Homo sapiens: one gene and its partners. The protein of the gene in region 1 interacts with the protein of each later gene in a biochemical or structural test. Each region holds a gene or a part of one and is shown in the gene's direction. Other genes may lie near its edges. The genes, in order: DOCK4, SNTG1, MAGIX, PDZD2, SNTB2, MPP4 and SIPA1L3.

Evidence for each region.
Region 2: the proteins of DOCK4 (region 1) and SNTG1 interact in a test that uses a peptide from one of them, tested with the Homo sapiens proteins (one large-scale study listed by IntAct).
Region 3: the proteins of DOCK4 (region 1) and MAGIX interact in a test that uses a peptide from one of them, tested with the Homo sapiens proteins (one large-scale study listed by IntAct).
Region 4: the proteins of DOCK4 (region 1) and PDZD2 interact in a test that uses a peptide from one of them, tested with the Homo sapiens proteins (one large-scale study listed by IntAct).
Region 5: the proteins of DOCK4 (region 1) and SNTB2 interact in a test that uses a peptide from one of them, tested with the Homo sapiens proteins (one large-scale study listed by IntAct).
Region 6: the proteins of DOCK4 (region 1) and MPP4 interact in a test that uses a peptide from one of them, tested with the Homo sapiens proteins (one large-scale study listed by IntAct).
Region 7: the proteins of DOCK4 (region 1) and SIPA1L3 interact in a test that uses a peptide from one of them, tested with the Homo sapiens proteins (one large-scale study listed by IntAct).

What each region holds. Positions count from the first base shown.
Region 1 is NC_000007.14:111,741,400-111,744,899, reverse strand, and holds part of DOCK4 (dedicator of cytokinesis protein 4), read left to right. Parts: intron 1-2,767; coding exon 2,768-2,887; intron 2,888-3,238; coding exon 3,239-3,360; intron 3,361-3,500. UniProt on the Homo sapiens protein: Functions as a guanine nucleotide exchange factor (GEF) that promotes the exchange of GDP to GTP, converting inactive GDP-bound small GTPases into their active GTP-bound form. Involved in regulation of adherens junction between cells.
Region 2 is NC_000008.11:50,789,407-50,792,906, forward strand, and holds part of SNTG1 (gamma-1-syntrophin), read left to right. Parts: intron 1-3,264; coding exon 3,265-3,423; 3' UTR 3,424-3,500. UniProt on the Homo sapiens protein: Adapter protein that binds to and probably organizes the subcellular localization of a variety of proteins. May link various receptors to the actin cytoskeleton and the dystrophin glycoprotein complex.
Region 3 is NC_000023.11:49,161,362-49,165,557, forward strand, and holds the start of MAGIX (PDZ domain-containing protein MAGIX), read left to right. Parts: upstream 1-1,396; 5' UTR 1,397-1,528; coding exon 1,529-1,577; intron 1,578-2,421; coding exon 2,422-2,568; intron 2,569-3,345; coding exon 3,346-3,428; coding exon of another isoform or gene 3,429-3,501; coding exon 3,502-3,729; intron 3,730-3,828; coding exon 3,829-4,000; intron 4,001-4,196.
Region 4 is NC_000005.10:32,107,631-32,111,130, forward strand, and holds the end of PDZD2 (PDZ domain-containing protein 2), read left to right. Parts: exon of another isoform or gene 1-338; coding exon 339-505; 3' UTR 506-3,302; downstream 3,303-3,500.
Region 5 is NC_000016.10:69,302,164-69,305,663, forward strand, and holds part of SNTB2 (beta-2-syntrophin), read left to right. Parts: 3' UTR 1-3,500. UniProt on the Homo sapiens protein: Adapter protein that binds to and probably organizes the subcellular localization of a variety of membrane proteins. May link various receptors to the actin cytoskeleton and the dystrophin glycoprotein complex.
Region 6 is NC_000002.12:201,695,845-201,700,101, reverse strand, and holds the start of MPP4 (MAGUK p55 subfamily member 4), read left to right. Parts: upstream 1-1,457; 5' UTR 1,458-1,515; intron 1,516-4,257.
Region 7 is NC_000019.10:38,206,539-38,208,869, forward strand, and holds the end of SIPA1L3 (signal-induced proliferation-associated 1-like protein 3), read left to right. Parts: 3' UTR 1-1,831; downstream 1,832-2,331. UniProt on the Homo sapiens protein: Plays a critical role in epithelial cell morphogenesis, polarity, adhesion and cytoskeletal organization in the lens.

The sequences.
Region 1 (3,500 bases):
ATCTTTTATGCTCTGTAGGCTTAGTCCACAAAACCTAATACTACAGGGAGAGAGGTGGCCACAGAAGAGAGAGAAGAATTACTTGAAGCTGATCTGTAAGGAAATAAAGAATAAGTCAAGTTCTCAATGTGACTCTGGGTGTTTGTAGATACTAGAAGTGAGCAGTTGAGGTCATCCATTACTTAGGATTATGCAATGACTTTAACCTTCATTGATTTTTAAAGATCTGTGTTTTACCTCTTATGAATGGTTCACTCCACCCCAGGACTGTATCTGCTGGATTCAGCCTGACTGAATTATTTCCCCAGAATTAAATGGTAGCTCAGGGTCAAGAAGACTGCCAAGAAAAATAAAACCAGGGAACCTTTATTTCTTCTACGTCCTGCTTATGTTCCTGAAACCTTGTGGAAAGAGCCATGGCCTAGAAAATGTGAGATCTCTGTTATAAGACAAGCAGTGCACGTGACTGTCAATGTGCCCTTGGCCAAGTCTCATCATCTCTGTGGGGAGGTGGACTGGAGAGGGCACCATCCTTCTCTGGACCTCTGCAAAGTAGTTCAGATAAACTCTCTAGAGGACAGAGACATGCACCACCCCAGTGCTCCTTCCAGGACAGACTTACTCTGCCTCAGCTGCAGGAAATGTGGCTCTCAACAGACATCTCCAGCTGTCAGGCCCTTCAGGGATTGCCTCCACTGCAGAGAGCCACTTGGCCCAAGGTTGCTACCTTCTCAGTGGTGCACATCCCATACTGAGGAAGCAATAGAAAGCCTGGCCATTTGGGACCAACACAGGACAACTTTGACAGACCATTAAAGGTCCAGAGGTTGAGGTAGGAGTATCATCTGACACCAGGAGTTCAAGACTAGCCTGGGCAACATAGCAAGACCCCATCTCTACAAAAACCTAAAAACTAGCTGGGTGTGGTGGTGCATGCCTGTAGGCCCAGCTACTTGGGAGGCTGAGGTGGGAGGATCACCTTAGCCCAGGAGTTCGAGGTTGCAGTGAGCTATGATCACACCACTGCATTCCTTCCTGGGCAGCAGAGTGAGACTCTGTCTCTAAAAAGATTAAAATACAGATAAATTTTTAAGAACATTCCAGAGGTCCCTTGGGTTTGGCAGTAGCTGACAGGACTGCTGTGCAGCTCAACTTCTTTTCTTGTCAAGTCCGGCTTCTGTCCCTCCCCCTGACAGGCATCAATCCCAAGGTACACCCTGATAAACATTATGAAATCCATGCTGGAGTCTACTTCCCAGAGAACCCAACTTGCAACATTCTGTGAACAAAAGGGAAGTCACCCAACGCTAGTGTTTAAAATGGAGAAGACTGGGGGCCTCTGCGTTTAGATCCACCTCCTACATCCCTTCCATGTCCTCATCACAGATGTAGCCTCTCCCTTTATGCCTCATACACACTGCACTCCAAGTGTGCCTTTCAAAGGCATCCTTGATATTTGTTATGCAAATATGCTGGCAGTGGGCAGCATCCAGAGCCCCGTCCCTTAGGGAAGGTGCTGGATGCCCCAACCCGCCAGGGTCAGTCCTGTTTGACCTGAGCTTTCAACCTAAAATCTTCACGAGCTGCAAAGATTAAAAATAGCAACAATAACAACAAAACCTTGTGGTGATATAGGATTCGTTTTCCTCCCAGTCTATGGAATTTGTCCTTTTGACCATGTTAGCATGGGGGGCATTTTTAAAATACAAAAGACAGCTGCTGCTCGAATCAAAGGAATCACACACTGTTGATGGTTGCACAAAGGAAGGTTGAATGTTTACCTTCATCTCTTCGGATCCTCACTGCAGGAAAGTTTTTTAAGTAGGACCTGCTCTCTCGTTGAATTATAAGTGAATATGAATAATGTTTTTTGGGATTTTTTTCTTTTTTCTTTTTTTTTTCTTTTTGGAGACAGAGTCTAGCTCTGTCACCTAGGCTGAAATGCAGTGGCATGATCTTGGCTCACTACAACCTCCACCTCCCGGATTCAAGCAATCCTCCTGCCTCAGCCACTCGAGTAGTTGGAACTACAGGCACGTGCCACCACACCTGGCTAATTTTTGTATTTTTAGTAGAGACAGCGTTTCACTGTGTTGTCCAGGCTGGTCTTGAACTCCTGACCTTGTGATCAACCCGCCTTGGCCTCCCAAAGTGCTGGGATTACAGGCGTGAGCCACCGCGCCTGGCCAGGAATAATCTTTTTAAACAAAAACAAGAAGCATGGAAACTGTCATAGAATTCCTTTTTGTTTTGTTTTTTCCATCCTCCCTGGCAGATTCTGAAAGTCTGTGGGAGGGATGGATGAGCACAGAGGAACCTAGTGGGAGAGGGAAATGTGGGGGGAGAGGGTGCCATGCAAAGAAGAGATCTTTAAGGGAGAATTGCCGGCCCTCTTAACAGTGAGCAGCACATGCCCCTATTCCTTCTCCACCCTGGGGAGAGAAGGAAGGGGCCAAAAGGACACATAACTGTTACGAGGCATTATAATTATAGATCTAAAATACATGGGAAAGAAGCCTGGGGGAGTAGGAAAATTAAGTCTGAAATCAGAACCAAGTTCTAATCCCCATTTGTCTTTTATCCATGCAGGATTTTTCAGATCCTCAGTTTTTCTTCACCTGTAAAGTGACAGCTGTTCCTACCTTGTCAGAGGCAGAGGATTAGCAATAATGCAAGCGAAATGCGTAGTAAAGTGCTCGGCCCATAGCAGGCACTTAGTGAGAGGTAGTCATTGATGTGAGGTTTTTTCCTTATGTTGTGAATTAAGGCACAGATTCTGGAATTTGGTTTGGCCGTGCATGAGAAGTTTGTACCTCAAGATATGAGACCCCTTCACAAAAAGCTGGTTGACCAATTCTTTGTGATGAAGTCGAGCTTAGGGATACAGGTATGTATACTTAGGTGTCCATGGCGGGGCAGCCTGATCACTGCCGTTTGCTTGTTAAAGGGATGATGATGTATCCAATAGTGACATCTTGTGGTTTTTCTACCAAACTGCACTGTTTTACCAGGGAGCCCTCAAATACAATTGCCTTGTCTGCTATTTGCGAGGCTTTCCTTTTGGGAAAACACAAATGTAAGTGAGGGAAAGCCAAATAATACTGGAACTTGCTTTAATAGCTCCCTATGTGAAGACTTGATGGCAATTAGGATGTGTGCCTAGTATGCTAACCTGTCTCATAAGTTATTTTGCCCAAATCATTACTGTAATGAGATATTTCCTTTACTACATCTTTAGGAGTTCTCTGCTTGTATGCAAGCCAGTCCTGTCCATTTTCCTAATGGAAGCCCTCGTGTGTGTAGAAACTCAGCACCTGCTTCTGTGAGCCCAGATGGTACCAGGGTAATTCCTAGACGCAGGTAAGTCATATTCCAAATTATCTTACAATTTGGCCTCACCCGCAAGCTGATCTGGAATGGTTCTCTCATTCTTTATGGCACAATTTGTCAAATACGCTATTTCTTAATGAAATAACTAACCCGCGAGGCAGCTGCAGACC
Region 2 (3,500 bases), on another chromosome or scaffold:
ACACCTTGATCTTCTCATCCAGACCACAGTGCTTTACCTACCATCTATGTGCTGACAGAAGCTGAACTTCTATTCTGAACTCTAATTTTTCCCTTAAATCCACACTAATATATGCAGTTCTCCACTTATCACCTATATGTCTAATATGCGTTCAGATGTAACATGCCCAAAACCAAAATCTTGATCTTTACTTCCAAACCTGCTTTTCCCATAATTTCTCCATTTGCAGAGCAACACGTTTTTTCCAGTTATTGAAATCTACTTTCAAATTCAACCCCTTTCCATATAGAAAACTTTGTAACTTCTCCTTCTTTCAATCCAATTCTCATAAAGCTCATTCTCAATAGTCTAACCAGAATCATCATTTTCTGACTTTTGTCAATGCCTGTCACTCCTCTGCTCAAAAATTTCCCATGGTTTCCCATGTCGCTCATAGTAAAACTCATAAAGGCTCATGCAGCATGCAAAGTGTTTTCTTTGATCTCATTGTCTGCCAAGTACTTCTTAATTCATTCCATTCCACACAAAATAACCCTTGCTTTTCTTCTGACTCTCCTGGAATGTCCCTATCTCTGGGCCTTTAAAATTATAATTCTTGTGTCTGGAATATTTCCCCACAAACATGGAAATGGCTCACTCCATCTTCCCTTTCAAGTTCCATATACAAGGCAACATGAATTTTCCTTCCCACGGCCCTTTGAGTAGTCTTTGCTGTCTCCTCCGCTTTATTTCTTGATGGTAACTGTCATATTCTGACATATTGTCCTTAATTTATTTCTGCCCTTAGTCACATTTTGCCTCCTGTCACTGGAAAGTAACTCCCATCAGGACTGTTTTGTTCCTTTGTTTGTTTTTGTCTGTTTTATTCACTGCTATCTTTTAACAACAACAAAAAAGAGTAGATGCATAGGAAGCATTTGGTATTTTATTGAATGGCTGACTCTTTACATTTTTGAAGATAGCTTATATTTAGTGATATCTGAGGGATCATGATGATCATAAGACTTTTTTTACAAGGGAAACTTGTAAGTCTGTGACTTGGTGGAAGCTGTCGGTGGATGGATAGATAGATGTTCATCATCAGTGGATGTTTGATAGGTGGTAAGAATGCAGGTCTAGTACTCACATAAGAAATTAGTAAATGAGCAGTGTGAGTTTACATAAAAGGAATCGTTGACACCCTAGGAGTGGAAATGGTTGCCAAGGCTGATCACTGAGGCAGAGGAAAGATGTGTGGGCATTGTAATGAAGAGTCAAACTTGGATCCATCTTGGTCTCCTGCTTTCTCTTCTAATCACCTGCTATTATTTCCCGTCTACCATTACTTCAAAATGGGTATAAAAAGTTTAAAGTGTCAATCTATATCAAATTATTGATAAATAATTGACAAGGTGGGAGTAATTGAAAATTTTTATTTTTCTAAAGATGCCTGGATACTTAGATATTTAAGGGTTGTTTATTTTTGGTAACCAAAATATAACCTCTATTTTAATAAAGAGATGGCAGAATTACCTTTGAGAAAAAGTTATTTGCCATACTATTTTCACCCAATTGTAACACTCAACTATATTCTCCTCCTTACCAAGAATGAATTGCTTATTTTTGTTGTTGTTGTTTTATTTTTTAATAACATGCAAGAACATTTTACATTTTCCCAAAATTTCCAAACCTTTCACATTAGGTGGATTTAATTTGGGAAGATAGAGAAAGTATTTAAAATGTGTTTGGGAAATAAACTGGCTACACCAAGCATTATGGGGTGAATGGAGGATTTCCAGGGTGAGTTAAGGCAAAGAGAAACTTGCTTATTTACAAATAACATGACTAGTGCCACTGAAGCAGATTATTATAAATAAAGCTTCTAAGATCATTATGATGGAGTTACTAAAAACTTTTTTGGTGGAAATATCTAAGGGAATTAGAATAGTTAAATGAATAACCTCTTCTATTCTCTAGGACAAGTTGCTATTTCACAAAGGAAACTATCAAATATTGAAGGTTTCAAGGGAGCTACTGAGAAAGCATAGCTATGTCTTCTATATTATAGGGACACCTGAATATATATTATGGGGTATCGTACTCCTGTTGCATGACCTGAGAAAATACTCCTCGGATGAATTATTTTATTTAAATAGCTGTCTGGTACACGACAGATATTACAATGTGTCATAAAGTATTGAATATTTTGTAATATTTTCCACTGCCACATGTAAGTTGTAAACACAGTCATGTACATATCAATTATAATTCTAAATTCTTTATTACATATATGTAGTGAAATATATAATAAAATAGCAATGAGTTTGTCAGAAATTTCATATGCTTTATTACCCTCTAGTTACCCTCCTTGTGATAAGTTCATCGTATTGATTTCATTAAGCACACAAATGTATTAGTCTTTCAATCATCTTGAAATTAAGACATGTTTATGTGATTATTGATGGTCTTTAATAATAATACTAGCAACATCATCTTTCTAAATGTATTCTGAGCATAGCTTTAAGATTTTATAGTTATTTTGACAAAATTATGGTTTGAAATAACTTTTTCTGTTTTCACTGCAATATATATAGTTTGGTTGCCACTGGTAATAAATGGGTTACAAATTTCCTTTGGTATTTAAATGAGAAACCTATTTCTAAAAATCCAAAATGAATTAGTGAGCTCTAGTTTATTTTTTTTTTTTTTAGTAAATATGCCACATAAACCATTAAACAGCCAGCCACAATTAAAATTAATGCAGGAATTATTTTTTGAAAGTGAACCATTTGGCTCCTCTGGTTATAAGAGTTCATATCCCCTTACTTCTAGCATTTCTTATTCAGTTTCTTATGGCAAATATTAACTCATTCTAGAGAATACTCAAGAATAGTTTTAAATTGCCCTAATCCATATTTATCATCTGATGTGTGCACAAAGAGATAAAAATACTTTTAAAAGTACTTCCAAGTTTATCTTTAATTGTACATTATCAAGAGTAAAATTTTGGCAAAATATATTTATCAATCAGTGCTAAAAGAACATTCATAGATGGTAAGAGTGATTAGTCCTCCTACCTCTTATCCACCATGTATTGAAATAAATTTTCACTACTTACGATGTTTACACGTTGACCAAAAATGTCTACATTTGAAATTAGTTTCCACATGTTACATATCATAGATTCTAGATAAGTGTATTGAAATTGAAAAAAAATCTAGCTATTATAAATTTTTAAAGACATTAATTTTTATGTTATCTGACCTGTTTCTCTTTCCCTTTCAGGAGTTGGAATTTTCTAATTTATTTGCTGTTCTTCACTGCATTCATTCCTTCTTTGCTGCCAAGGTAGCTTGTTTGGACCCTCTATTTTTAGGCAATCAAGCTACTGCTTCTACTGCTGCCAGCTCTGCTACCACGAGCAAAGCAAAGTATACAACTTGACATACTGAACTCTTCATTGACACACCCCATGACTGTATAAGCAGGACACATTTACTCATCATTTTAGACCCTAGAGA
Region 3 (4,196 bases), on another chromosome or scaffold:
GTGTCCACCCATAAATATATATATATATATATATTTGTTGTTGTTGTTGTTGTTGTTTTGTTTTTTTGAGAGAAGTCTCGCTCTTATCCCCCAGGTTTGAGTGCAATGGCTCGATCTCCACTCACTGCAACCTCTGCCTCCCGGGCTCAAATGATTCTCCTGCCTCTGCCTCCCAAGTAGCTGGGATTAAGTCACCTGACACCACGCCTGGCTAATTTTTGTATATTTTAGTAGAGATGGGGTTTCACCATGTTCGCCAGGCTGGTCTTGAACTCCTGAACTCAGGTGATCCACCCGCCTTGGCCTCCCAAGGTGCTGGGATTACAGGCGTGAGCCACTGTGCCCAGCCATAAATATATATGTTAAAGCTCTAACCTCCAATGTGACTGTATCTGAAGATAGCTTCTTTAGGAGGCAACTAAGGTAAAATGAGGTCACTAAGGTGGAGCCCTAACCAGATAGGACTGTGACCTTATAAGAAACAGAAGAGAGAGATCTCTCCCTCTCTCTGTGTGTGCCTCTCTCACGCCTTTACTCTCCTTCACTCTCTTAATTCCATGTGAGGACACAGCAAGAAGGCAAGCATCTGCAACCCAAAAGGAGAGACCTCACCAGGAACCAAATTGGCTACCACCTTGATCGTGGACTTTCCGGCTTCCAGAACTGTGAGAAACTTATGTTGTTTAAACCACCCAGTCTACGATATTTTGTTACAGTAGTTCTAAATGAATAAGACAGGAAATAAAGCTGCTATGAATATTTGTAAGACAAGGCTGTGTAAATGTATGCTTTCTTTTAGATAAATACGCAGGAGTGGAATGGCTGGCTCATATGTGTACGCTTAGTTTTTAAAGACACTACCAAACTGTTTTCTAAAGTTGCAGGCCGGGCACGAGTGGCTCACGCCTGTAATCCCAGCACTTTGGGAGGCTGAGGCGGGCCTCGCCTGTAATCCCAGCACTTTAGGGAGTTCGAGACCAGCCTGACCAACATGGAGAAACCCCGTCTCTACTAAAAATACAAAATTAGGGGGGCGTGGTGGTGCATGCCTGTAATCCCAGCTACTCAGGAGGCTGAGTCAGGAGAATCACTTGAACCCGGGAGGCAGAGGTTGTAGTGAGCCGAGATCGTGCCATTGCACTTCAGCCTGGGCAACAAGAGCGAAACCCTGTCTCTAAATAAATAAATAAAGTTGCAATATCATTTTACATTTCCACCGGAGGTATAGGAGTTCCATTTCCTCCATATCTTCAGCAACAGTTGGTATTGTCAGGCTTTTAAATTCTAACTAGGACCTTTAGTTAACAGAGTGCGGCGCCTGCAGCAGAGTGAGGCCAAGCACTCCTCCTGGCTCCTACAGCCAGGCCTCCTTGCTGGCCGCCAGGTAGGTCACCGCGCGGGTCCGGGAGCCAGGCACGGGACCCGCCAGCTTCAGCCTCCAGGGCCTGGGCGGGCCGCCAGGTGAGCGCGCCCCAGAGCTCAAAATTCGTAGCTGGCAGCCCTGCGTCCACCCGGCGGACTACTGGCCATGGAGCCGCGCACAGGGGACGCCGCGGACCCTAGGGGGAGCAGAGGAGGTACAGGGATTGGGGTCGTTGGGGAAGGACAGGGCGAGTCGCCGCCATCCCCGTCCCGCCTGTCTGCTCCACACCTTTTCCTTCTGACAGGTGGTAAACAGAGCGGCTCTGGCGCCCAAGTGAAGGTGGCAGGGGGCAGGGGCCCAGCGATGGAGGCTGGGCTGGAGGTCCCCTACCCACACCCACACACGAGGGAAAGGGCCGCGCACCAGAGCAGGGGAGGGGCTCTCAGGAGTCTCCAGGGAGACGTGCAGATGTGCGGGGAGGGGTCTGCCCGTGGTCACTGGGGACACCTGGGCACTCAGGGTCTTAGTGAACTGGGGGGAGGGGAGCTGGGGGCCCCTGGGGACCTGTGGAGGGGGACTCTGGAGGTATGTGGGCCATGGGGGGAACGGGCCCTCTGAGGGAATTCATGGGGGTAGCAGCGGTTGCCTAGGATACTTAGACGGGGAATTGGGGGTTCCGGGGCTATGGGGTCAGGCCGTGTTCTCCCAGGATATCTGGGGAAATGGGGTCCCCTGAGATATCGCGGGCGAAGAGTTGGGCATCCAGGGTGATTAGGGGGCAGTCGAGGACCTCACGGGGTGTTCGGAGGTGTCTAGGACTATTGCAGTCAAACAGCGATCTCCAGGGACACCGTGGGAGCAAGCGGGGGTGCACCGGCTACCCGCGACGGTCGGGGATCGCGTGAGGGGAGGGACAGCAGTGACCTCCGAAACTATCGAGGGAGTGGCCAGGGGTCGCCGGGTATCCTGAGGGGCATTTCTAGGTCTTCGAGCGTCCGGAAGCATAGGGGTTGGCCGAGGCCGAGGGTCGGCGTTGACCTGTCCCCTCTTGCGCGCAGGCCGCGGCCCCTCCCCGCTCGCGGGCCCTAGCGCCCGGCAGCTCCTGGCGCGGTTGGACGCGCGCCCCCTGGCGGCGCGAGCTGCGGTCGACGTGGCAGCGCTGGTACGCAGGGCGGGCGCCACATTGCGCCTGCGCCGGAAGGAGGGTGAGTGACTGGCGCAGGGCCTCCGCTGGGGGAGGGTTCGGAGAGGAGTTGGGTTCAGTGGGACAGGCCTGGGGGGTCAGCAGCTACTGCCCTGTCTTGGGTGGGGCCAAGGGGCGCGACTTGGGGCGGGGATCGGAGGGTGCTTCGAGTGGGAGGAGCCTTGGGGTTATTCTAGCATATTCCTTGAGGGTTATTGCAGTCGGCGAGGGCTAGATTAGATGAGAGTGCGGAACTGGACCCCCGTTCTGGCGGCGGTCCTTTTTGAGGAGGCAGGGCCTGGAGAGTGCTTGGGGGGCGGGCACGCAGCGAAGGGGCAGGCCTGAAATGTGAGTCACGGGGGTGGAGCCTATAGTCCCATGGGGGCGGGGCTTGAGATGTCAGGAATGGGATGAGGGTTAGAGGCTAATTAGAGGGCGTGCTATGGAAGGTTCAGGAGCCAAATTTTGGAGTAGCATTCTCCAGGGTGGGCCGAATGGTGTTGTTTGAGGGATGTGTTCTGCGTGTTATTAGAGGGAGATAGGAAGGCCTGGAAGATTATTCACATGGCTGAGCCCAGGATTGTTTATTAAGAAGGTGGGGTCAGAACAGTTAATTTGTTTGGGCTGAGAACCTTTAAGATTACTTGAGGGGATGGTGCGTAAATGGTGGGCCAGTTTGTATATGAGCTGCAGGGGCAAGACAAGTAGATGAGGCTAGAATGTTAACTCAGGGAACAGGTCCTAGGTAGTTTCCATGGCATGTCCCCCAACAGCCCTCTCCACTGCTTTTATCTCCCAGCTGTTAGCGTGCTGGACTCTGCGGACATAGAGGTCACAGACAGTCGCCTGCCTCATGCCACTATTGTGGATCACCGGCCCCAGGTACCATCTCATCCTTCTATCGGAGGCCTCCTGCCTCAGGGCAAACTATGTACACCTGTGTCCTTTATTCCAGCACCGTTGGTTAGAGACATGTAACGCACCTCCCCAATTGATCCAGGGTAAGGCACGTAGTGCTCCGAAGCCATCCCAGGCCTCTGGTCATTTCTCTGTGGAGCTGGTTCGCGGTTACGCAGGCTTTGGCCTCACCTTAGGTGGGGGCCGGGATGTAGCTGGGGACACTCCGCTGGCCGTGCGCGGGCTGCTGAAGGATGGCCCAGCACAGCGCTGTGGTCGTTTGGAGGTGAGCCCTGAAGCCCCTTCCACTGGTAGGTGCTATCCCTGCCTTTGTTGGGGTGCTCTCCTTTTGCCTTTCCAACACGACTGCATTGCACTCCTCCAGGTCGGGGACCTCGTGCTCCACATCAACGGAGAGTCAACGCAGGGCCTCACCCATGCCCAGGCCGTGGAGCGGATCCGAGCTGGAGGCCCCCAGCTCCACCTGGTTATTCGTCGGCCTCTGGAGACCCACCCTGGCAAGCCTCGAGGGGTGGGAGAGCCCCGAAAAGGAGTTGGTGGGTTTCCCAAGGGAGAGAAGTCAGAGATCAGTGAGGAGAAGGGAGAGGTTCACAGAGTGGAGAAGCTGAGATTCTGGGTGGGAAGGGTTTGGTGGTCTCTGTGGGGAGGGTCTGCAAGAGGTCATGGTATTCTCACAAGTAGGGGCAGGGAGGGGTACAGGGTCCCAGGATAGGAATAACGTAGGGGCAGGGA
Region 4 (3,500 bases), on another chromosome or scaffold:
CCCAACTTTATTTTGTGTTATTCTTGTTGACTTGTAGCTCTTTAGTCTGGATGTTAACCATTTGTTGATTAAATACATAGAGAGTATCTTCCCCTTGTCAGTTTATTTTTATCTTACAGATTATGTTTGGAGGGGCGGCAGGAGGGCTAGAGTTGCACTGTTTTCTGTAGACCAGTTTACTTTTATGGATATATGCTTTTTGTGTTCTAAGAAATATTTCTCTATTCAATAATATATTATTTAGATATTTTTATCACTTAAAAGTTTTTAGTTTACTTAGGATTTTTGAATACTATGAAACTGCCAAGCTATTAATTATTCTGTGTTTATTCTCGTAGGTGGTGCGGCTGAACAAGCTGGAATAATAGAAGCTGGAGATGAAATTCTTGCTATTAATGGGAAACCTCTGGTTGGGCTCATGCACTTTGATGCCTGGAATATTATGAAGTCTGTCCCAGAAGGACCTGTGCAGTTATTAATTAGAAAGCATAGGAATTCTTCATGAATTTTAACAAGAATCATTTTCTCAGTTCTCTTCTTTCTTTAGCAAATCAGAGTGACTTCTTTAAACCACAGGTTGTTGAAATGGCCAACACTGGTACAGACACGGACTATAAAAATCTCCAAGCTTGTGCTTACACATGAAGCCTGACTTAACTGTATGTGCAACAGCAATGAAATTAACTCCAGAAGCCTTCCACCTGCGTCACCCAGGCCGGGAGGGTTCCTTCGTTCCAGTGCCTGTCCCCTACCTTTATGTTATGTTTACTGATGGGGATACAAGATGTGACACACCCTTCTTTATTTGAAACAAACAAACATTTAGCTAGACCTTTGCTTCCTTCTTGCCAGCTCTCCCAACATACCCAATCCTGGTGATCAGGGAACTAAAAGTCTGAGGGGGACACAAATGTCACACCTAAGAGGACAATCAATCATTTTGTATGATTTTGTAAGTAAATGACAGAATGCTTTTAGGCACATTCAATGGAAGGAGGAGATGTAGGTCTGTATATGTTACCCTGAAAAGAGAATAAGACTTACTTAAAAAAATGAATTATGACCTGTTAGGCTGAGCTCAGGAATTGTCCAAAAAGGAAAAAGCAAAATAATTAATTGAGAGTATTTTTTAGTGAGTGTAATGTATAATGTACGTATGCAAAGTTCAACTCAATAGGTTATTGATCACCATGAAGTATTGATCATTTTCTATCTCAAAAGTGTAAGCCATAAGGCTGTTTTACAGAATAGCACTTCTGATAAGCTGTATTAAATAGCCATGAGCTTCACTGCTTAGAGGGAGCAGAAAGGTCAACATCTAAAAGCACCTTACAACTAGTTTTTGAACCTGTCTTGATAAGTGCTTGAATTCAAGACTGGTCAGTCCAAGAGCAGACAAAAATATCACAAGTCAGTCAGTCACTGGGTTTCCATTTCTGAATTTTATGCACTCCAACCATGAATTTAAACTAAATTTTTAGAAATCAAGTATCTTTCTAAGTGTCCTTGGATTTATAGACAATGTATGTACAATCCAAATAGAGGAGCTTAATGGAATCCTTTTAGGAGACTGGTTGGTTTTTTTCCCTCTTTCCCAACATGTTTAAGAAATGTAACATTCTAAGTATTGGATCTCTTTTCTTGACCTAGTATAATGACAACTGCAGTGACTTAAGTTTTTGCTGTTTTCGTTTTCCCGCTTTGCAATTTCCTCCTTTTGCCAAAAATGTTTTCCTACAGAAGACTGTCGTGACTCACGCTACTTGGGAAACTCACTCTGGCCACTCCTCCTCTGGTGGCATGAGCTGCTTCCCAGTAGCTATTCCGATTGGATATTCCGTTCGTCGTCACATAGCTGGCTTTTCTCTCCTCATGATGTACCTTATTTTCTTAGGTAAATAATTCCAAACTCTCATCGGGTCATAAAGAGGAGGAGAAACAGGGTGAGTCAAGGTAAAGGAGCAGAAATGTAGTTACAAGCCAGGTCGTCTTCAGTGGCACAAACCAACCCGTTGAGCCCTGACAACATGAGTGGAGAGTGCATTTGCCATACCTGTGTGCATGACACTAAGATTTTATGTTGGAGATACTTCTTTAAATAACCTACAGCTTGGGTCTATGGCTGTGACCCCCAGATTCATGGAGGGGCTTTAGCCATCAGCTTTGTACATCATCATTTTTCTGAATGACCAATCCCACTAAACATCTTTGAAGTCGGCCTAGAGAGGTCCTTCAGATGAGAGAGAAATAGCTGGCTTGTCTGAGTCCAGATTTCTCATCAACTGGCAATACAAAGGAAAATATGGTACAGGAGTTAGTTAGAAAGGTCTTATTGATTTTACTTCTACTTTTCACTACAGTTACAGGTAGAATACTGTAGGAAGTCAGTGCAAGGTGCATGCTTGATTGATAGATATTGATTGATTGTTTTTCAGTCTCTGGGGTCAGTTTTGTGGTTTCTGCTTTCTTGCCTAAATCAAAGACTATTTCAAGTCAACAACACTGAAAACTGCTTTTCGCCTCCACTCTTACAGCTGTGCCTAATAATAATTAATTAATAAACGCACAGCCCTATGTGAACAGACAGGAATTTCTTGTGCAATGTGGAGCAAATGGAATGGTCTCCTTCCGCAAGTCTTTTTAATCCTCATATCTGGAGTACAAGGGTAGACCTCTGGCTTACCACATACACTATGCTAAAGTCATCAGCCACTGCTACTACATCTTGCCAGAAGGTTTCCCTCGCCAACAAACAGTTGAAATTTAAGGGAAGAAGCAAAAGCTAAACTGTCTTTGACCCTAAGATAGATAGAAAGCTATTTATTTGTCTTCAGTGTTCAAGGCATGACTAGTATTTCTAATTAGCCTAATAAATTCCCACACTTTCTGAAGTGAACACTAATGGTATTGTCCTACTAAAACTGTCATTGTTTCTTTTTTTTTAACTGGTCAGTCATTCACAATAAGCTATGAGGGTAAATAAATATGTGTTATAACAAGTAAACCGTAGTTGCAAGAATATACCATGAAGATTAAAGTAGGCTGGGTTTCATTTCCATCTTCCCACACATCTCATTGAATTTGATGGTTGACTTAATTGGCACCATAACTTTGTATGATATTATACATTAACCTTTATTTATGTAAAGTAAAATGCCTTATATATTAAAGAGTAAGTGCAATAATATGAAATAGCCTGTACATTTTAAAAATGTTGTCACCAAGTTATATAAATCCACATCTCTGTAAACAACCTTTTTTAAGTAATTTTAAAAAAAATAAACACTCTGCTTACTACTTGATTTTTTTTTTCTCTTTTGGCTGTTTGTTTGTTAATAATAGAGTAATATTGAGATGAGAAATGTTTATTGTCACCTAAATGCATCAGAGGTACAAAGGCAATAGAACTCAAATTAGCCACCCTTTTCCAGGCCACACTCACAATCTTGACACAATCCAAAACTTTTCCACCTCTAAATCTTTCTTACAATTGAACATCC
Region 5 (3,500 bases), on another chromosome or scaffold:
ACCGTGGAACAGCTACCTGCTTTTGGTTAAGATTGCCAGATATCATTAGGACACAGTAGCAGCAAGAATGCTGATTTTGTAGTGTTAGAAAATGAACTCAGCTTGTTTTTCCTAATTTTGAAGGTGGTATATATCTGCAAACATTTAAAATGGTATAATATCATATAAAATGTCAAAATTAGCACAGTCCCTGGATCTCAAAGAATAGGTAATATTGACTTGGATGTTCTTTATGCTCTCTGAAGAAAGGTCTAGGGAAAGTTCTTGTTTGCTTGATTGATCAAGAGTGCCACGGAAGAATGTGAGCGCTGTGGAGGGTGGAGGAGGGTGTCACTTCAGATGGGGCAGGCACAGGGGGAGAAAAGAAGAGAAAAACACACCTGTGTGCAAAATGAGCTATTTGGTTTCAGTGCGGCCTGACCGATGGGGAGGACCCATGAGCAGAGAGAGTTCTAGGTCAACATTGTAACTCCATTGTCCTCCTTCACCCATAAGTCAGTCCTCCTTCCTCATTACAGTGAAACCAACAATATGCAGAGGTTGGGGAGAGATGCCTGTTCTTCCCCCAGCTTCATATAATTGTCAAAGTTCCAAAAATGAATTATCTGAACTGCTTAAAACTGGAAATTAAAATCTAGACAAGAATATGTCTTTCAAGAGCTTTTTATGTTTTGAAAGTTCATAAACCTAAGATTGGCTCCATCTGAGATAAATTTTCTTTTCTTTTTTTTTTTGAGACGGAGTCTCGTTCTGTCTCCCAGGCTGGAGTGCAGTGGCATGATCTCGGCTCACTGCAACCTCCACCTCCTAGGTTCAAGTGATTCTCCTGAGTAGCTGGGGTTATAGCTACCCACCACCACACCCAGCTAATTTTTGTATTTTTAGTAGAGGCAGGTTTTCACCATGTTGGCTAGGCTGGTCTTGAACTCCCGACCTCAAGTGATCCACCTGCCTTGGCCTCCCAAAGTGCTGGGATTATAGGTGTGAGCCCCCGTGCCTGGCCCACAATAAATTTTCATTTCAGAGAAGGAAAAAAATCTCTTGAACGTCCAGAAATGATTTCTGGAATCAGAATTTCAATATGTAATACCCTCAGGTAGGCAATCTTGAACCCTCTATGCAGTGAGAGCATTATTAATATGAGATGTTGAATGATGCCTTTACAGACTTCAGCAGCAAAGCCATTTGGTTGAGGTTTTCTGTGTTAATGTGAAAAGCTAAGCCACTGAGATTTGCAGGGGAGCTTCTGAGCCACCCTGCTTGTTGGTTATATGAGGATGTAAAATAGGTGGAATTAAAATGTGAGCAGGAAAGGCAAGGCATGTGTGCATTTTCACTCATTTTGGTCAAGGTTAAACTGACATGTATAGCACTGAGGTCTGTAGGGTTCTTAATATCTTTTGAGTCTTGCTGTGAAATGAAAGTGTGGGAGGTTTCCTTTGTCCATTAGCAGCCCCAAGAACCAGAACCCTTTTGCTGCTTTTCTTACATACCTAACAGCTCTCCAGTCATGATGACCAAGGTTGTTCTTCAATCAAATGTGTTTGTGGGATTTTCAGTCCGCAAATGAAGTGCTCTCTAATGAATGGGACACCATGATAAATATGTATTTATATTTAGATGCCAAAGTATGGCAAATTATTTCCAAATGATAACTACAAATGGGAATTTTCGATATTCTACCTTTTTTATAGAACCAGCTCACTTTTCATTTCTTTTTCATTTTGAATTAAGAAAATTGTTGAGGATGTGGTGGGTTCCAGTGTGTGGAATGGAAAGGAAACTGCAGAATAGTGTCTGCTCCCCATTCAGAGGGACTGCTTCCTGTGCCCCCCAGACCCGGGGCTTCGACAGCTTCTCCACATTCCACACAGATGCCTAGGAGCAGCGAGTTGGTATATGAAAAGTCTCCCACCTTTTCTCCTAAAACTTCTCTCCTTTCTCTCCATAAAAAGAAAAGGAAAGGAACAAAAGAAAAACATTCAGTTTTTCTTTTTCTGAAAAAGGTAAGTCCTTTCCTGAAGTCATCAAATGAAACATTATCTGGAAATTAGTTTCTAATGTTGTATATGAAGAAATACTTAAATATAAGTTCCTGCAGTATTTATTAGATAGTTGTAACTGTAAACTCACCTCCCTAGTAGATAAGAGTTTCAGGTTAAATACTGGAACATATATAGGCAGTCAAAAATACTACTTTAAATGTCATTCACCTATTTTAAAGCCATGTTTTAGCACTTTTTAGGCCAAAGAAGGTCTGATAGTGCCTGTTTTTATGTTCTGTACTCTCACAAACTTTGTTACTCAAAATTATTGCATGGCAGGAGAGATTGGATTATTTATTTCTTATATTTTTATAAGTAAAAAAATCTTTCTAAACAACAAATACCTAACATTATTACTGATTGTTTTCCTAATTTATCCTCCTAAGTTGAATGGTAACAAAGCTTTTCCAGCTGAATGAATGCACTTAGCTGATAAACCAGAATTTGTTCTTTTTTTTCCTTCTTTTTTTTTTGAGACAGGTTCTCACTCTGTCACCGAGGTTGGAGTGCAGTGGTATGATCATAGCTGACTGCAGCCTCAACCTTCTGGGCTCAAATGATCCTTTCACCTCAGCCTCCTGAGTAGCTGGGACCACAGGTGTGTGCCACCACACCTGGCTAATTTTTATGGATTTTTTTTTCTTTTTTTTTTTTCGCCATGTTGCCCAGGCTGGTCTTGAACTCTTGGCACTCAAGCAGTCCTTCTGCCTCAGCCTCCCAAAGTGCTGGGATTACAGATGTGAGCCACTGCACCTGGCCCCAGAAATTATGCTTAAAAAAAAAATTAAGCTGTGTGGAATCTGGACAAGGCTATGTTTCTCCTAGAAACAGGTTTTGCTGTAAATGGTTTTGATGGGCGAAAGTGTGAGAAAAGGTTATAATAGATTCTTTTTTTTAATTTTGTGAGAAATTCCAGGTCTTCTTGCTTAACTTATATGCATGTGGATATATTTGTTTTCAAAGCCATGGAAGAATCTCTGTTCATATATTTTAATGCAAATTACCTTGTATGCTGCTATGCAAATTCTATTAAAAGGCCTACCTGCTTAAGAATTAAACATTTTTGAAACTTTCAGGGAAGACCTGTAGACTCAAGCACTTTCTCTGCTTTTTTGTATCTTATCTTGGACACTTATGCTGAATTATGTTCTTATTATTTTCACTGGTTATAAGCTATTCCTTGTACATAATATTTAAACTATCCAAATATCCAGCATACATTTCCATGTGGCTGCCATCGGCTGTTGATGCCATGAATGAAATGGCTGGTTAGAAAGCCAAAGGTCTTCTTTTTTCAATTCCTAATGAATAAGTAAAATGCCAGATCTCTTTGGTCTCAAAGCAAATTGCTCTGATCAGATCAAATATCTATGTAATGAAAAGAGACTTACTTAAATTTGGGATTCTGCTTAAACTTTAAGTTGAATTTGACTGTAGTCATTCATTCTTTTTATA
Region 6 (4,257 bases), on another chromosome or scaffold:
TTGGAAGGGGACCAACCCTTAAAAATCCGTTTATGTTAAATACTTTGCATTTACATTGGAGATTGTTTTGAGTTTCTGAACAAACACATAAATAACCACATTTGCCTGGTAAAGCCAAATTTACAGAATTTCTGACTCTGGGCGGGGGTGGATAATATGTGGAAATGGACAAACAAAAACTTTGAGACAAATTGACCCATTGAGAAGATTTCCAATGATGATAGGCTGTCTCTGTTCTAAGAAAAGCCATGTTACAATTCGTCCTTTTACTGGAGTCTTGAATGAAACTGTTCAGTTACTTTGGATTCTTCCTACTATATGCTTTTCAGATAGCATATTAAAGTTATAAATTTTGAAGTGTATTGGAAGAAAAACCCTAAATCTCCAGGCCAATGTTTGTAAATAGAAGTCCTTGGCACTCCTGCAGCAGTTTACAATGGTCATTCACATGCGTAATGAATGCTTACAGCAGCCCAAGGATGCAGGTGTTATCCCCATTTCCCCCCATTTTTCAGACAAGCAGTGACCAAGATTTGCTCACTGCCAGAGCTGGGACTCCAGCCTAGAACTTCCCTACTCCCTACTTCCCTAGAAGTCCAGTGCTTTTTGCTACTACAGCTGCCAGAGATGTCATTTCATAGCTGGTTATGTATTGAAAGTTCTTAAAAGTGAGTTAAAAATGAAAATCTTATTGAAATCAAGTGCTTTTCACAAAATATGCTGTACTCAAAACACAAATGTATCACATTCCCAACTTGTGTTTTCATCTATGATGGAGAGATAAGGAAAGCCATGTGATTAATATGGGTAGAAGGGCTGAGGACCCTCTGATAATTGCCATTTGGTCTCTACCTTTTGCCTTGCTGTCAGCAATACCTTCCTCTCCTTTCTGCAATATCCCCTTCCAAATGCTCTCCCCACTGAGCACTCCCTGCAGTATTAAGTTTTCAGATAAAGAAGTAGCTCCTATCTGAGACAGAAAGCACTATTTGTTAGGTTCAGAACAGTGGCTTGGGAGGGGATTGACCAGAAGGTACTGTTTTTGATGGGTTTCTATTATTAGCTGAACAGTCTTCAGTTGTTTTCTCACCATAACATGAGAGATTTAATAAGGTTAGTAGGTTATTGGCTTATTTCCGGTCCTGCCACATTTTTTTCTTTCATTAAAAATGCTATCTTCTGTTGTGGAATGTCTGTCATCTTGAACTAATCAACAAAAATACTATGTTTTTCTGCCGTTAACTATGTGTTGGCAATTTGAGAGAAAATACTAGAATGTAGGTTTGAAAATGATACAAATTAGACTTCAAGGAATACTTAAGAAGATTTGTGGCAGGAAAGGCTTGTGAGTAATTTAGTTGTTAGGCTGGGTTAGGCATCTGTGGATTACATCAAAGAGGATGTGCAGAGATTTTATCGGGAGCAGTGAGGTGACTTTGGCAGCTAACAGGCCACTAGTATCCTACTAAAGCTTTTGTCTGGATAGGAGCAACATGCATGTTTACAGTCTTGCAGGTAAGAGACCTTGGCAAATAATCCTCAGTTACCAGAAGATGTATCCATAACTGCCTAGCTTGCCTGTCAGTTTTTAATAGCTAAAGATATAAATCTGGGTAATCTAACTCAAATGGCTTAGTTTCATTTTAACTCAAATGATATGGGGAATTTTATGATCTTGAAAGAGCAGGTTTTGCTTCGAGAAGCCATTTCTTCAGTATGGAATAATGAGTTGTCAGGAAGATTGAGTACAATGGGCATTTGCCCTGGTCCTAATCAACAGCATTTGGACCCAGAGGAAGCCAGCTATTTTTGTAAGGGCCATTTCTCATCATTAAGTTTCCAAGTGCTTTTTTAGGGTTTGTCTAGTAAAAAGCACTATTTTGAAAAACAAGCATAGTAAGGGTAGGGGGTTGTGGCATTTAATAGTACGTTTTAAAAAGCTAATGGAAATACTTTTAAAACAAGATTTAGGACAAATTCCTTAGGCATCAGTCACACTAATGCATCTTCTGAGTCAAGAACTGGCTATCCTTTCTGTGTACTCAGTCCGGAATTGCATGTGGTGGGTGCTTACTTATTTGCAGTCTCAATCAAGAATTCTCACTCTCAAGATAGCAGAAATAGATAAGCTTCAACTGACAAATTTGGTACAGAAGTCATGGAAAGGAAGGTAAGTCTTTTGCCAGGCATCATGCCAGGCATCAGCATCTTTCAGGACTAAGGAAACAAAAGAGGAAAACTCGATTTTACTACATGTTAACTCTACTGAATACCTCCTTGAATGTCAGATTCCTTATCTGTAAAACAAAGGTTTTGCATTTGATTATCTCTAAGATCCGCTTCTGCCCCCAGTTTTAAAGTTTGATAGGGAAAGAGGTTTAAGTCAGGATACCAGGCCAGGGAGGAAAGGAAGGGAGGGCACAGGCCTCTGGAGTTCAGCTGCCTCCCCCATTAGGATTGAAGTCCCAGCTGCTGGCTACTGCCTTGAGGGAGGTATCAGCCTTTTACTTCTGGATCTTGGCCTCTCCTTGTTCTACCCCTTCCCAACAACAACTGAACATACCAAGTGCTTGCTATGGCCCAAGCACTGTTGCAGGTGAAGCTGCAGCATGAACAAGATAAGCAACATCTCTGCTCCCCAGGCCCTCTGCAGACATGACACCTGCGGGAGACAGACACTGAGCAAGCCAGTGGATACAAGAACTGGGAAAATGAGAAGTGCTATGAGGGCAAGAAGTTGCAACTGTTTTCTTAGCTACCTGGAGGGAGGGAAAATCATTTTCTGGAAGTTTTTTTCTATGAGTTTTGTCTTAGCTTTGGCTGTCATAACAAAGTACCATAGACAGTGGCTTAAACAACAGAAATGTATTTTCTCATACAGTTCTGGAGGCTGGAAGTTGAAGATTGGGATGCCAGCATGGTTGGGTTCTTGCGAGGGTTCTCTTCCTGGCTTTCAGATGGCCGCGTTTTCACTGTGCCATCATCTGGCAGGGAGAGAGAGAACACATGAACTCTGATGGCTCTTACCCAGACGCTAATGACATCTTGAGGCCTCTACCTCATGACCTTAACCCAGTTACCTCCCAAAGGCCCCATCTTCAAATGCCATCAACAATGGGGATTAGGGCTTCAACATCTGAATTGGGGGTGGGGACACAACATTCAGTCCACCATAAATTTGTCATAGGAACCTGAAGATGAGGAGCCAAGCACAGTTTTTAGAATTTGCATAAGTTGTAGATTACTGTAATTATTGTTTTTGCCTCTATGGCTGAGAAACTTTGGGTCAAAACGAGCCTTTTAGAATGTATGAATTAGTTATCTAGGTAGCCCTGAAGTTGGCTCTAGATTTATTAGAAGCTATTTTAACCATTGCATTCACTCAAGAAACCACCGCCTATCTGTGAAGCACAGTCTATCTGTAAAGCTCCCTCACAATAAATTCATCTCAGAAATATGTAGTCTCTAGTGTGTGCCCCCAACTGCTGAATGGGTAGGCCTAGCTCAGCACAGTCATTCGGGCATTAAATATGGCAGAAATGTGGTCCACCTCATGACGTGCAAACAACAGTTGGCTTGTTTAATCTGCACTGCTTTGCCAAGGACGTGTGATTTGTGAGGTGCTGGAGGGGAACCAATTTTAAGAGTCAGCCTGAGTGTCAGCCTCATCTGTCTGCTCTGACTTTTGTCTGCTCTCTAGCAGGCACTCCATCTCCCTTTTCAATTTTCTACCCTGGAAGTGCTCCCCTCCAGGGAGGAAGATGAGTCAGATATGCAGCTGTGATGCTAAATGATTCAATAGAGTCAAAAACAACACAGAACACAGGAAAACGCATTGTTTAATCTGACTCAATTACAAGTGGGCAAGGTAGGTGATGGAGGGCAAGTCAAAAGCATAACGATGTCAAGCTTTGGTAGAACCTAGCAAACCGGAAGACTTCAGGGTGTTTGGAAAGGAATGTGTAGGGGAAAGTTGTCTAAAATGCTGTAACAGCTTTCTGTGTTGCTCTTCTCACTGCCTTAGAATTTAGAGTCAAAATAATAATGATCTTTTCTTCTTTTAGATAGCCTTCCTGGCTTCAACCCACAATCAGTCTAGATTCTAGACAGTGGTTCTCAACCCTATCAGAGTCAATACTCCAGTCTTTAACAACTAATTTGAAGTGTTCCTTTTATAACAAAAACCTTAATGTATTCTTTATTGTCCTACTATAACAATGTTGTTGGTCCCTACCCCCACCGCATACCCCTTGGTTG
Region 7 (2,331 bases), on another chromosome or scaffold:
CCTCTTCCTGGGACCAGCCCTTCGAAGCTGATGGGGACGGAGAGAGGAGCCAGTCTCCAGACGCCTCGGCTCCAGGAGGTCACACAGCAGGTTTCTGCACCACGCACAACAAAGTTGCGGCTTGTGGGGCCGAGGCCCCTGCATGAAAAGTACAGCGTGAAAGCAACCCTTTCTTCCCCACACCCAGAGAGGTGAGGCCCGCGTGGACACAGACCAGGGCGCCTCGGTCCCTAGCACGTGAGCTCCAAAAAGCACGAACATGATCCCCTCCCTAACCCCCTCCTCCCAAAAAGCAGCCAGGAGCACTTTCTTAGAGTTTAAATTATTTTCTTGGGGGCCTGAGGATAGAGAGAGGCAAGGCTAGCCTCCAGAGCCGATTTATTTGAGAGAGAAACTCTATTTGGATCTCCAGGACGGTTTATACGATCTTTTTCTATCAGCTCCTCTTCCGCCAGAGGCCACTGCACCTGGGCTAGGGGTCCACAGGCCCCTCCACCTTCCAGCTAACCAGGCCAGGCCGGGGCGGTGGAGCCACCACACAGCCGACTCTCTCCTCCTCCTCCCGGCACGACCTGGCCCTGACCAGCAGCCTCGGCCTCTTCTGGGTTCCAGGAGGGGCTCCCGAAGCCCTCAGGACAGGGCTGGAGGAGAACAGCCTTCATCTCCTCCTCTGGTTTTTTTTTCCTTTGCAAGTCTCCCAGCCCATCTCTCCGAGCAGCGGCCACCAGACCCCCTCACCATGCTCCCCGGGGAGCACTGCACCCCGCGAACCCCACTGGACGCTGGTTCTCTAAAGGCAATAAGGGGCGGCCATGCCGGTGTGGTACCACGCTGTTCCTCCAGGAAACCGTTTCTTTTTTTCCTTCTTTAAAAGCAAACAGAAAAAGATATATATATATATATATATATATTTATTTTTTCATGTAGAGTTGGCGCCAGAACAAGCCTGTATGGCCACAGTCTGTGGATTCATCCCCCCAACCTCAAGCTGAGGACCAAGGCGTGTCCCCTGTGGGCTGGGGGTCAGTGGGAGGACCAGAGGGATGAAGTCAGGGCAGGCCGGTGCCCTTTTTGGGAGGCACCAGGCGGGGAGGAGTTGGCGGAGCAGGTCTGGCTGTGAGCCAGCACCAGGCAACCCGGCCCTTGTCCAGGGACCTCTGCTGCCTTCTCTCTGGGGTCAGGAACCTCAGAGGAGGGGGCTCTGGGGACTGCATAGGACGCAGGCACTCGGAGGTGCCGGTGTGGATGGGTGGGGGTGAGAGAAGAGGGTTCTTATCGCGTCTCCTGTGATCAGCCTCTGGCCCCCTGGAGGAGGAAACCTCAGCGCTGCCCCTGCCCCCACCCTCACCCCCAACACCAAGAGTGAGGTGGGCGTGCCCCAGGCAGCGTCCTCAGCCCTGGCCAGCTACTGTGATGCCATCTTCTCCCCCATCCCCTTCTCTGGGGGGCCCACCCGTCCCCCACCCCCACCCCTTAGACCCTCATCGGGTCCCTTTTTTTTTTTTTTTTTCAGTTGTCTCCTCCCATCTTCAGATCATTCGAATCATTTTGGGGACTTAATCATGTACATGGACAAGTGTAAATTATGATTTTTGGTTTTGTTTTCTGTTATTTTTTAAGGATTTCTGCAAAAACAGATCTATTTAATTTGAGGTTGATGTTCTATCCAATGGCCGAAGATAGCAGCAGGTTTTTTTTTTCATATGTTGATTTGTTTCATTTGGATTTTTTTTTTATTATTCTTTATTGTCTTTTTTTTTTCCCCATCCCTGTCTTGAGATTTTCTGGCATGTTTCTGGAGGTTTCAAAGGAAATAAAGGTTTCATAGAAATGGCTTGTGTGTTCACTTTTGGGGCAGCTGCCTGGAGTTGCTGACCAGAGGGTGTGGTCCAGCATCGGCCCCTCCTCCTGCTCCTGTCCCCAAATCCCCCACACCATGACCACCACACACATGTCCTAAGAACCAGGGGCACCTGCCTTGCTAACTTCTTTTCCTTGGAATCCAAAGGACAGAAATCCAACACTCAGAATGTGAAATGTCCTTAAGTTCAAAAGAGTGAGATTCTGCCTCAGAGGTCATATACTGGAGGCCTGAAGGCCAGCCCCAGCCCAGAGGGTTGTGTTGGGTCTTAGAAATAGTGGCCAACTTTTAATCTGGACATTCAGCCAGGTGCAGTGGCTCATGCCTGTAATCCCAGCACTTTTTGAGAGGCTGAGGCAGGAGGATTGCTTGAGCCTAGGAATTCAAAACCAGCCTGGACAACATAGCAAGATCCTACCTCTAAAAAAACCTTTTTTTTTTTTTTTTTAACTTTTTTTCGAAACAGAAAC